Homo sapiens: one gene and its partners. The protein of the gene in region 3 purifies or fractionates together with the protein of the main gene of each other region. This does not show direct contact. Each region holds a gene or a part of one and is shown on either strand. Other genes may lie near its edges.

Region 1 (3,658 bases), on a different chromosome or scaffold from region 3:
CATGTACCAAGATCCCCTGTATCTCTCTTAGTTAGACAAAGCAATGTATTTTTATTTAAGGCTTCTATAGAAGATCAGAGTAAAATAGTTAGGCTTCTTCAACCTAGAATGATGTGACAGGGTAGACCTGATCCAAGTTTGTAAGTTATAAACAGTTAAATTAGAATTGTTTCTCGAAATTCTTGGTGATTAGGAAGTCACTTTATAGCATGCATTGAATTAAAGCTTGGACTGTAACAATTAAGCAGATTTTATTTCGTGTACATTACCTCTGGCTGTGCAGAAAGTTCTCTTAGAAGATGACCATTCCATACAAACCGCTGATCTGCCTGAGAGAAGTTTTAAAATTTAATAAAATATCTCCTGCCAAGCTTACTTTCTACAGAAAGAAAACTACACCAATCAATGTCTCTTTCTGATGGCTAGAAGCCAGTTTCTTTGACAGGCCTCAAACAAAATACATCTCCCCCGCAAATCTGTACCTCCTGTGGGCATTTCTGTCTCATTGTCTCAGGCCAGACAGAAACCTGGGAGGAGTTTTACGGTATTTCTTTCCCTTACATTTAATTGTCAAGTACTAAATCTCCTTCAAAATCCATATTTTTTACATTTCTACTCCCACTATCTTTACCAACATCTGACTCCAGCCTAACTAACACACCTTCCCTTGCCTCCAGTTTAGGCATTAGCCCTCGCCACTCATTTTTCCACAATGCTACCAGCAGGAGTTCTCTAACATGTCCTGTCTCCTATCTGCTCAAAATTCTTCAATGACTCTGTCATCTAAAGAACCAAATCTCTGCATGGCCTAATCAGTCCTAGGATCTGGCAGCCCCTAATTAACTCTCTGATCTCATCTCTGGCCACTCCAACTTTCATAAATACAGAAGAGGCTCCCTCAACAATCTATATTTAATCAACTCTACTTAGGGCCAGACGTGGTGGCTCATGCCTATAATCCCAGCACTTTGAGAGGCCAAGGCAGGCGGATCACTTGAGACTTAGGAGTTCGAGACCAGCCTGGCCGACATGTCTCTACTAAAGATGCAAAAATTAGTCAGACGTGGTAGCACGTGTCTGTAGTCCCAGTTACTTGGGGAGGCTAAGGCACAAGAATCACTGGAACCTGGGAGGTGGAGGCTGCAATGAGCCAAGATCGTGCCACTGCACTCCAGGATAGGTGACAGAGCAAGACTCTGTCTCAAAAAAGAAAAAACAAACAAAATAACTGACTCTACTCAGTAGATTAATCAATTCTATTTATGAAGCATACCAACTGAACCACCAGCACCGCCGACTCTAAAAGTCACAGGGAATGGCTTTTGCACTTGACCACAACCAGCTGAATCGCACTTCCTGAGATTCAAGTGTGTGTTCCTGAATTTGTACCAGTCATACTTATTATTATTTCATCATTATATAGTTTAACTATTTTATAAACCAATGAAATAAGATGAAAAACACACTGCTGTTTCTATAAAGTTAAATGATTTGGAATGTAACTTGATAAGAGGCAAGTTGCTAAAACAAAACTGCTGTTGAATTTGGAGTGGGAGTGGCAACTAAAAAAATATAAAAGAACATAGTAAAAATGTACAGGATTCTGCACACAGATTTCTCTGTAAGTGTCAAAGTCTTTAAAGTGGCCCAAATGGGAAAGCCCTATGGATGTAATTTACACAGGGAAGACAATTCAGAATCAAGGAACCAAAAACAAAGAAAATCCTATGGCCGTACATAAAAACATTGACCAATGTAAAACTTTTAGGTTTTAAGTTAAAATATTTAGGGTATATATGTTCCATTTATCACTTTTATGATTCCCTATGTTAACATTAACTTTTTTTTTTTAGACCGTCTTGCTGTTGCCTTGGCTGGAGTGCAGTGGCGTGATGACAGCACACTGTGGCTTCTATCTCAAGTGAACCTCCCACCTCAGCCTCCCGAGTAGCTGGGATTGCAGGTGCGTGCCGCCACACCTGATTAATTTTTAAATTTTTTTGTAGAGCTGTGGTCTCCCTATGTTGCCCAGGCTGGTCCTGAACTCATGGACTCAAGCAATCCTTCTGCCTCGGCCACCTAAAGTGTTGGGATTACAGGCATGAACCACTACACTTGGCTAACTTTCTGTTTAGCTGACAAAACATTCCCATCTCATCCCAACAGATGAGATGGCTTTTTCTGCAGCTTAGCCTCTGCCACCACCTCTGCCTGGAACCCCCCGGCCCACTGTCACCTGACCAACAAATCTTCATCAAGTCTCAGCTCAAAAGTTACCTTTCTGTGTAAAGTTACTGTCCTCTGTAGATACCTTACTTTATAAAGTTGTCCCTGACAACCTCAGGCAAAGACCCTCATTCCTTCAGGATCCCACCTCACTTTGGTACATATCACCATTATAGCAACCATTCTTTGACTACCACTTCCCCAGCAGACTGTAGGCTCCCACAAGACAGGGTCCACAGCTTCATTCTGGGTCCCCAGGGGCTAGTATAGTTCCTGGTACATGGCTGACGTTGTAGAGATGTTTCATAAACAAATGGAGAATGTAGCAACTGCTTTTAAAAGCAAGTCTCTTTGTAGTTAAAAGCCAAGTTTCTTGAATGCTTAGCCTGCACCTAAACTTCCATCTAAGCCTACATACAATTTTACCAAATTAGAGTTGAAAATCTCACCCAAAAAAGCCAGTCAACTAAAATATTAATTTAGGTTGAACCACATGAAATAACCATTTTTATTGGTCAAAAATGGTCAATTACTGGCGACTTCACATTGTCCAACCTAATAAGTAAGATGGAGCGACCTTTTAAATTCTGTCTTCTCATTAAACACTTCTAAGGTGTGTCAAAAAAAAATTCAGGTAGCAATCATCCAGGTTCCTGAACAAAAGAAACTTTAAGTTGAGATCATATGAAACCTAATTTTAAAGATATATTCACTGTATATTAAAAAAAAAAAAAAAAAAGGCAGACTGGGCAGGCACAGTGGCTCACGCCTGTAATCCCAGCACTTTGGGAGGATGAGGTGGGTGGATCACTTGAGGCCAGGAGTTCAAGGCCAGCCTGGGCAACATGGCGAAACCCCATCTCTACTAAAAACTAGCCAAGCGTGTTAGCACACGCCTGTAATTGCAGCTACCTACAAGGCTGAGACATGAGAATTGCTTGAACCCAGGAGGCAGAGGTTGCAGTGAGCTGAGATCGCACCACTGCACTACAGCCTAGGTGACAGAGTGAGACTCTGTCTCAAAGAAAAAAAAAAAAAGCAAAATAAAAAAAACCTTAAAAGGATATTTTCCAAGTTCTAGTGACTTTTGTTACATTTTTAGTTATAAAAATTATAAATAAGCATCACTACAGAAGAAATATCAACTGTTAGAATATGAATTTTATAAGCCTAATTACACTGCTAATGTAACTGCTACACTACCGAACACTGAGAGTTAAGAAATTACAAATGAATGCAATGCTAGTTTGAAGATTTGACATCTGAGAGTTAGCACTTGGTAGCCTGGTAATACTTATGCAGAAATACAAATTCTGAAAGATTTTCCTCTAATAACTTACATGTGTGTTTATACAAAGATTTCTGAATATCTACACCAGTGATTCTCAATTCTGGCTGTATATATACACAGATTCAAGGACTCACACACTGG
Region 2 (3,658 bases), on a different chromosome or scaffold from region 3:
AGTTTACGTTTGGAATGGAGAATCTTGATTGACCCAGCAGTCCATTTAAGTGGAGGTTGGCAAGGAAACTTGGCCTGAACTTCATTTTCTGGTTTGAAGGCAATGACATGCTTTCATTCTTTAATCAGGAACATGTGAACCGACTGGCATTCTGTATTCTGAATTCCTCCTGGGACATTAGTGATGTGTTTTTTTGTAACTTAGGAATTGTACCTAATTTATTTTTTAACCAAATAGCATATCTTCTTGAGATGGCTAGCTGAGAAAGAGTATGACACAAGTGTGATCAAGGATCAGCAAAATTAACTACCCATGCAAAGATTAAACCTGTTACCTTTACTTCCCTAATGTGGTATTTTAACTAGCTGAGCTAACCACCAATGGAGTGATGGTATGGCCTTTCCTGTACTCAATTCAGTAATTGAACAGTTATTTATCGAACCCTCTCCAGATGCCAGGCACCCTGCAGAAAGTAACATTCTGAAAAGGAACAGCCATGCCTGTAGCCCAAAAGTGAGTAGTTGTATTAATGGTCCATTCCTTATTAACAAATTAATTTCCTCAGGAGTTTATTGGACCAGATATCAAAGTCCCACTGGAATGTCTTAAGTGAGAGAGAGGATAAATCAAAGTTTTCCTTATCCAGGCTTTTTGGATGTCTTTTTCCTGAGCCTCCTCTTCCAAGCCTGTTTTGCTCTCAGTCAGGATTTACCAGCACTCTGCATGTGTAGGCACGCTCACCTGCTTCCTTCTGTAGTGGTAATGACAACCTACATTTGTATTCTGCAGTTGATAAAGCCTGTTCGTGGTACAATACCTCATTTGACCCTCCCAACAACTGTAGGGTAGATGTTATCTACATGAAATTGAGTCTCAGAGAGGGTAAGTAACTCACCCAGGTTACACAGTAAGTAACAGAGATGACACACGAGTTCAGCTTTTCTGGAGCTAAGTTCTCCTCTTCCTCCACCCATGCCCAGCCACTCATATCCTAGGTGTAGATCAGAAGGTTCTTAAAAATATTGTTAGACTGAGCTTTAAAAGCAGTTTGGATCAGAGATTTTCATTGTCTGTTTTGTGTTCACATGGCAGTCGAAAGTCTCTAGGTTCCATTGCATTATACCCTTCTTAGAGGCTCCAGAATAAATTTTTTTATAGTGGTGGGGAAAAGCCCTTATTCTTAGAATAAGAATATAGATCATTGGTAATAGTAATCAGTTCCATTTCTTATGAGATACTTGTCAGGATTAAATGACATAATGAATTTAAAGTATATTGCCTGTCATAGCAAGCACTCTGTTACTGTTAGCTATTATCATTTATGACTATTGCTCTATGTTGTTTTTTGTTTGTTTGAAGAATGGGCTCTTAACCTTGTACGAGAAAGAAAAGGGTGAGGAAGAAAATGGATTGAAGGAATTGTAGGAGACTAAATGTTAAAAGTCATTAAACTACCTTCTGGTTTATCTAGAAATCCAATTGAGTGATTTGTTAGTAGACATGAAACAAAGATAGCTATGATTTTAATGAGAAGCCTTCATATTCAGAAAAGCTGCGTGGGAATTTTTGATACATACAATAACAGTTTGAAAGTACTAGCAGAGTTTACTTAATGAATTCTACTTTGTATTATTTAATAAAAATGACCCTATAATATATATGTCATTTCTCCTATTTTATATCTGATATAAAATATCATCTATTTTATAACTGATCTGCCTATTTGGGGTGGAAGATTAAGAAATACAATTCTTATGTGTGTGTGCATTTTTAAAATTAATAAACTTAGCTCTAGGTGGATTATTTTATATTTACTTTTACTTTTTTTTTGTTTTTTTTTTTTTGAGACGGAGTCTCGCTCTGTCTCCCAGGCTGGAGTGCAGTGGCGCAATCTCGGCTCACTGCAAACTCCGCCTCCCGGGTTCACGCCATTCTCCTGCCTCAGCCTCCGGAGTAGCTGGGACTACAGGCGCCCGCCACTACGCCCGGCTAATTTTTTGTATTTTTAGTAGAGACGGGGTTTCACCATGTTAGCCAGGATGGTCTCAATTTCCTGACCTTGTGATCCGCCTGCCTTGGCCTCCCGAAATGCTGGGATTACTGGGATTACAGGCGTGAGCCACCGCGCCCTGCCTACTCTTACTTTTGAATATGTACGTTTTGTAATTGTTAATGAACTAGATTCTTAAATAGTGTTGACATTGTTGGGACTTTGGATAGCCACTCACTTTTTCAGACTAATAGGGCATAATTTACTTTATTGTTTTCTATTACCTGAGATTGTGTTTATATATTATAAGAAAATCATTTTGGAGAAAAAAGGAGCCAAGATGCATCCTTTTGTTCTATGGACTGTAGTGATCTAACAGTTGATGCCCTGCTGCCTTCATTTACCCTCATTCCAGGAAAGTGGGCTATAGCTGGTTTGAACTTAAATTTTGCGATAATGTAGTGTTCACTGCAAAATTCTCTGTACCAGCCACATTTTAAACAAAGTGGAGGCAGCAGTTAGATTTCGTTGCTTAGCCTTTTCCTGTGGCAGTAAGTGGGATCACAGACTGATAGAATTTTATAGCTGAAAGAGACTTTAGGTACATAGGTATCTTTATTTTATAGATCTTGAAACTTCCCCACGATCAATGGGCTTGCTGGTTAAAAAAGCTGGGAAAAGACCCAGATCTCCAATCAGCTGCCTGCTCTGGAGAAAACGAACTCAAACCTTAGCCACCTTAAATATACCTTTTTTAGAAGTACGCAATGTATAAACACAAGTGAATAACTTAAAGAATAGTCTGTTGAGATGAAACAGAATAGTCCATATTTTGGGTGTGTGGAAGGTAATGCATGTCAAGGTCTACGTCTTCAAGAATTGTAACTCTTGGGGGACCACTGCCAGTTTGCAAACAATTCCACTCCTGGAAAAGGTTTAAGAGAGTTTCTCTCCTTTATGGAGTGCATAGCTAATACTTTTCAAAATAAGTGGATTCTCAGTCGTTCTGGTGAATTTTTTTAAGTTTAAATATTAATATCTCCAACATTCAACTTTATATTTTCAGGGATCGATTTGCTTAGTGGTATAATACCTGAACTCTGTCAGAAATATCCAGATTTAAATTTCATAATTGGAGGAGAGGGACCAAAGAGAATCATTTTGGAAGAAGTTCGGGAAAGATACCAGCTGCATGACAGGTATTGATGAATTTCATGTTGTCTTGAGGGAGAAGATGTCAATTATCTCTATTTGGTTTTAACTGCATGCGTACCTTAGGTGTGTTGCTTCTCCTGCATGTAATTGATATACATATAATTGATATAAATCTAATGCAAGGACTGTTTTCAAAATTTTTATATAAATAGGAAACCTAGTTAATTCACTATTTTTTCCATTAGCCCAATATTATTTGACTTTGGGGGGCCATTGTTGGAGGCACCATGAAAGGCACAAAAAACAGCTGCTTTAACTGGAAGCGTTTGCAGATTTCCAGGCCATACTGTGTAGTGATTTAAGTAATAGGGCTCAAATCATGTAAATTGCTCTGCACATACAGATTTGGACAAGTCTCTTCCTCAGTAACTTACACAACACAAGGCTTGTACGTGTAAAGCATCAATTTTAATAAAAAGGCCATTTTCCTGTTTACAAATGGCACTTTAACAT
Region 3 (2,456 bases):
GCGTGGTGGCAGGCGCCTGTAGTCCCAGCTACGTGGGAGGCTGAGGCAGGAGAATGGTATGAACCCGGGAGGCGGAGCTTGCAGTAAGCCAAGATCGTGCCACTGCACTCCAGCCTGGGCGACAGAGCGAGACTCCGTCTCAAAAAAAAAAAAAAAAAATACAAAAATTAGCTGGGTGTAAAAGTAGCCCAGCTAATTTTTTGTATTTTTAGTAGAGATGGGGCTTTCACCATGTTGGCCAGGCTGGTCTTGAACTCCTGACCTCAAGTGATCCGCCCTCCTTGGCCTCCCAAAGTGCTGGGGTTACAGGAGTGAGCCATCGCACCCGGCCAAGTATTTGTTAATTAGCTGAATAAAAGAGTGTTCTCACCTTTGATTAAGCCACTTGCTCCACCCCGAATGCCTTCCCTTCTTCTTGCCTTTCCTAATCCCACCTAAGCCTTGGCTGTAGCCCCCACTCCTCCAGGAAGCCCTCATTGACTAGATGAGTTCTGAGCCCTTCTTGCCCCTCACCTGTTAAAATGCCTAATTTTAGGTGCCAAGTAAAGTCTGAAGTGGTGGTGAGAGGCAGAAGAGAATAAATTTTTTTTTGGAGCTTTACTGGGGTTAAGGGCAGGGGAGGGGAGGGGCCGCCAGAGGCTCCCAGCCAGGGCGGAGCCTCAGGGAGACAGCTGGGGATGCAAGTCACTTCTTCCACTGCTTCTTCTCATAGTCCCAGCGGGAGGCCAGGCCCTGCACAGGATTCACCTTCATGTCCAGCATGCGCTGCAGCTGCTGGGCTTTCCGCTCGTCCGTCAAGGTGATCGGCTTTGGAGGAAATACTGCAGGGAGTACATGGGGTGGATCAGGATCCTGCCAGTCTTCCTACACCAGCCAGGGTCTCCAGCCACCCTGTAGCCTCCCAGCCACTCGCAAGGCTGACGGTACAAGATACTCCAGGGTTGAAGTATCTTGCACTGAGGAGCTCACTCCACCCTGTCTAGCCCCGCACCCCAGACTTTCTCCTAGAGCATCGTCCCAGGCACCTCTGGGTTCTGACCCCAGCTTTGCCTTAGACCCCAAGGACTGTGGGAGCTGGGCCAAGGTCCTTCACAACTCAGTCACCTCACCTACCTCTGTGGTCTGTGGTAATAAGATCACTGATTTGAAGACTGCCTGAATCCAAATCCTGGCTCTACCACTCCCTTGCCCTGCGACCTTCAACAAGTCACTTCATCTCTCTGAGCCTCAGTTTCCTTACCTGTCAAAAGAGGTCCTATCCACTAGGATTGTGGGGACTGAGTATTTCCAAAGCTGTTGGCACAATGTTAGACAAATATTAAGCACCTGATACATGTTACCTACTATAATTATATAATTACTGAGTTTGTTCCCACTTGCTGGGCAGGGTCCAGGATGAAATAATTCCTTTTACTTTCTAAGAGGGTTGAAAGTAGGAAGTAGGTAAGAGTGTTCACTTTAAAAATATGGGGACAGGCCACCGGGCACAGTGGCTCATGCCTGTAATCCCAGCACTTTGGGAGGACGAGGCAGGCGGATCACTTGAGGTCAGGAGTTTGAGACCAGCCTGGCCAACATGGCGAAACCCTGTCTCTACTAAAAATACAAAAATTAGCCGGGCGTGGTGGCACACTCTTGTAGTCCCAGCTACTCGGGAGGCTGAGGCAGGGGAATCATTTGAACTGGGGAGGCAGAAGTTCAGTATATATATACACTGAAAAACACACAGTTCATACACAACAATCAGTTACAACACCATTCATGACTATGAGCCAAACACTGGCCTACAGCCCTCTCTCATTAAAATCCTCTTAAGTACCCTGAGATGGAACATTACTATTCCCATTTTAGAGATGACGAAACTGAGGCCCAGAGAGGTAAAGTTCCTGCATTCAAACCTAGACAGCCATGCTCTGTCCTTCACCCTACACCTCTTCAGAAATTTTCAGCTCTTCAGATGAGTGCCAGCATGGTTCCTTTAAGAAACTGTCTGGTGGCCGTGACCACAAGGGCATGGCCCAGGACTGCAGCCAGATGAGGTGTTGCCACTCACCGTAGACCCGCTGCCACCAAATCACCAGAGCTGCGAATCCAATGAAGAAGAAGACACAACCCATCACTGTCTTCCACTCATTGGAGCGACGGTTCATCTCCGCAAAGGTCTCATTGAACTGGAGCCGGTACACTGGAGGCAGTTGGGTGTGGGGAAGGGGCCTCAGGTGCGTCCACTCTAAGTGATCCCGGCTTCCCCCTCCCTGCAGCAGATGCTGTTCATTCAGCAAATTCTTACTGAGCACGTACTATATGCACAGCATGACCAGGAACAGGTGACAGCAGTGAATGAGCCAGATGAAAATCCCTGCCCTTGTGGAGTTTAGAGGGGGAGACAATGGCAAATGCTTCAGGCAAACAGTTGGCTGGCCAGGGAAGGTGTCTCAGAGGAGGTGACATTGGAG

The links.
Region 1: the proteins of COX4I2 (region 3) and SACM1L purify together in Homo sapiens (affinity purification with mass spectrometry; one large-scale study listed by BioGRID and IntAct). This does not show direct contact.
Region 2: the proteins of COX4I2 (region 3) and PIGA purify together in Homo sapiens (affinity purification with mass spectrometry; one large-scale study listed by BioGRID and IntAct). This does not show direct contact.

The regions. Positions count from the first base shown.
Region 1 is NC_000003.12:45,709,808-45,713,465, reverse strand, and holds part of SACM1L (phosphatidylinositol-3-phosphatase SAC1), read right to left. Parts: intron 330-3,658; coding exon 270-329; intron 1-269.
Region 2 is NC_000023.11:15,325,445-15,329,102, reverse strand, and holds part of PIGA (phosphatidylinositol N-acetylglucosaminyltransferase subunit A), read left to right. Parts: exon of another isoform or gene 1-789; coding exon of another isoform or gene 790-882; intron 883-3,056; coding exon 3,057-3,189; intron 3,190-3,658. UniProt on the Homo sapiens protein: Catalytic subunit of the glycosylphosphatidylinositol-N-acetylglucosaminyltransferase (GPI-GnT) complex that catalyzes the transfer of N-acetylglucosamine from UDP-N-acetylglucosamine to phosphatidylinositol and participates in the first step of GPI biosynthesis.
Region 3 is NC_000020.11:31,643,133-31,645,588, reverse strand, and holds the end of COX4I2 (cytochrome c oxidase subunit 4 isoform 2, mitochondrial), read right to left. Parts: intron 2,186-2,456; coding exon 2,054-2,185; intron 822-2,053; coding exon 685-821; 3' UTR 583-684; downstream 1-582. UniProt on the Homo sapiens protein: Component of the cytochrome c oxidase, the last enzyme in the mitochondrial electron transport chain which drives oxidative phosphorylation.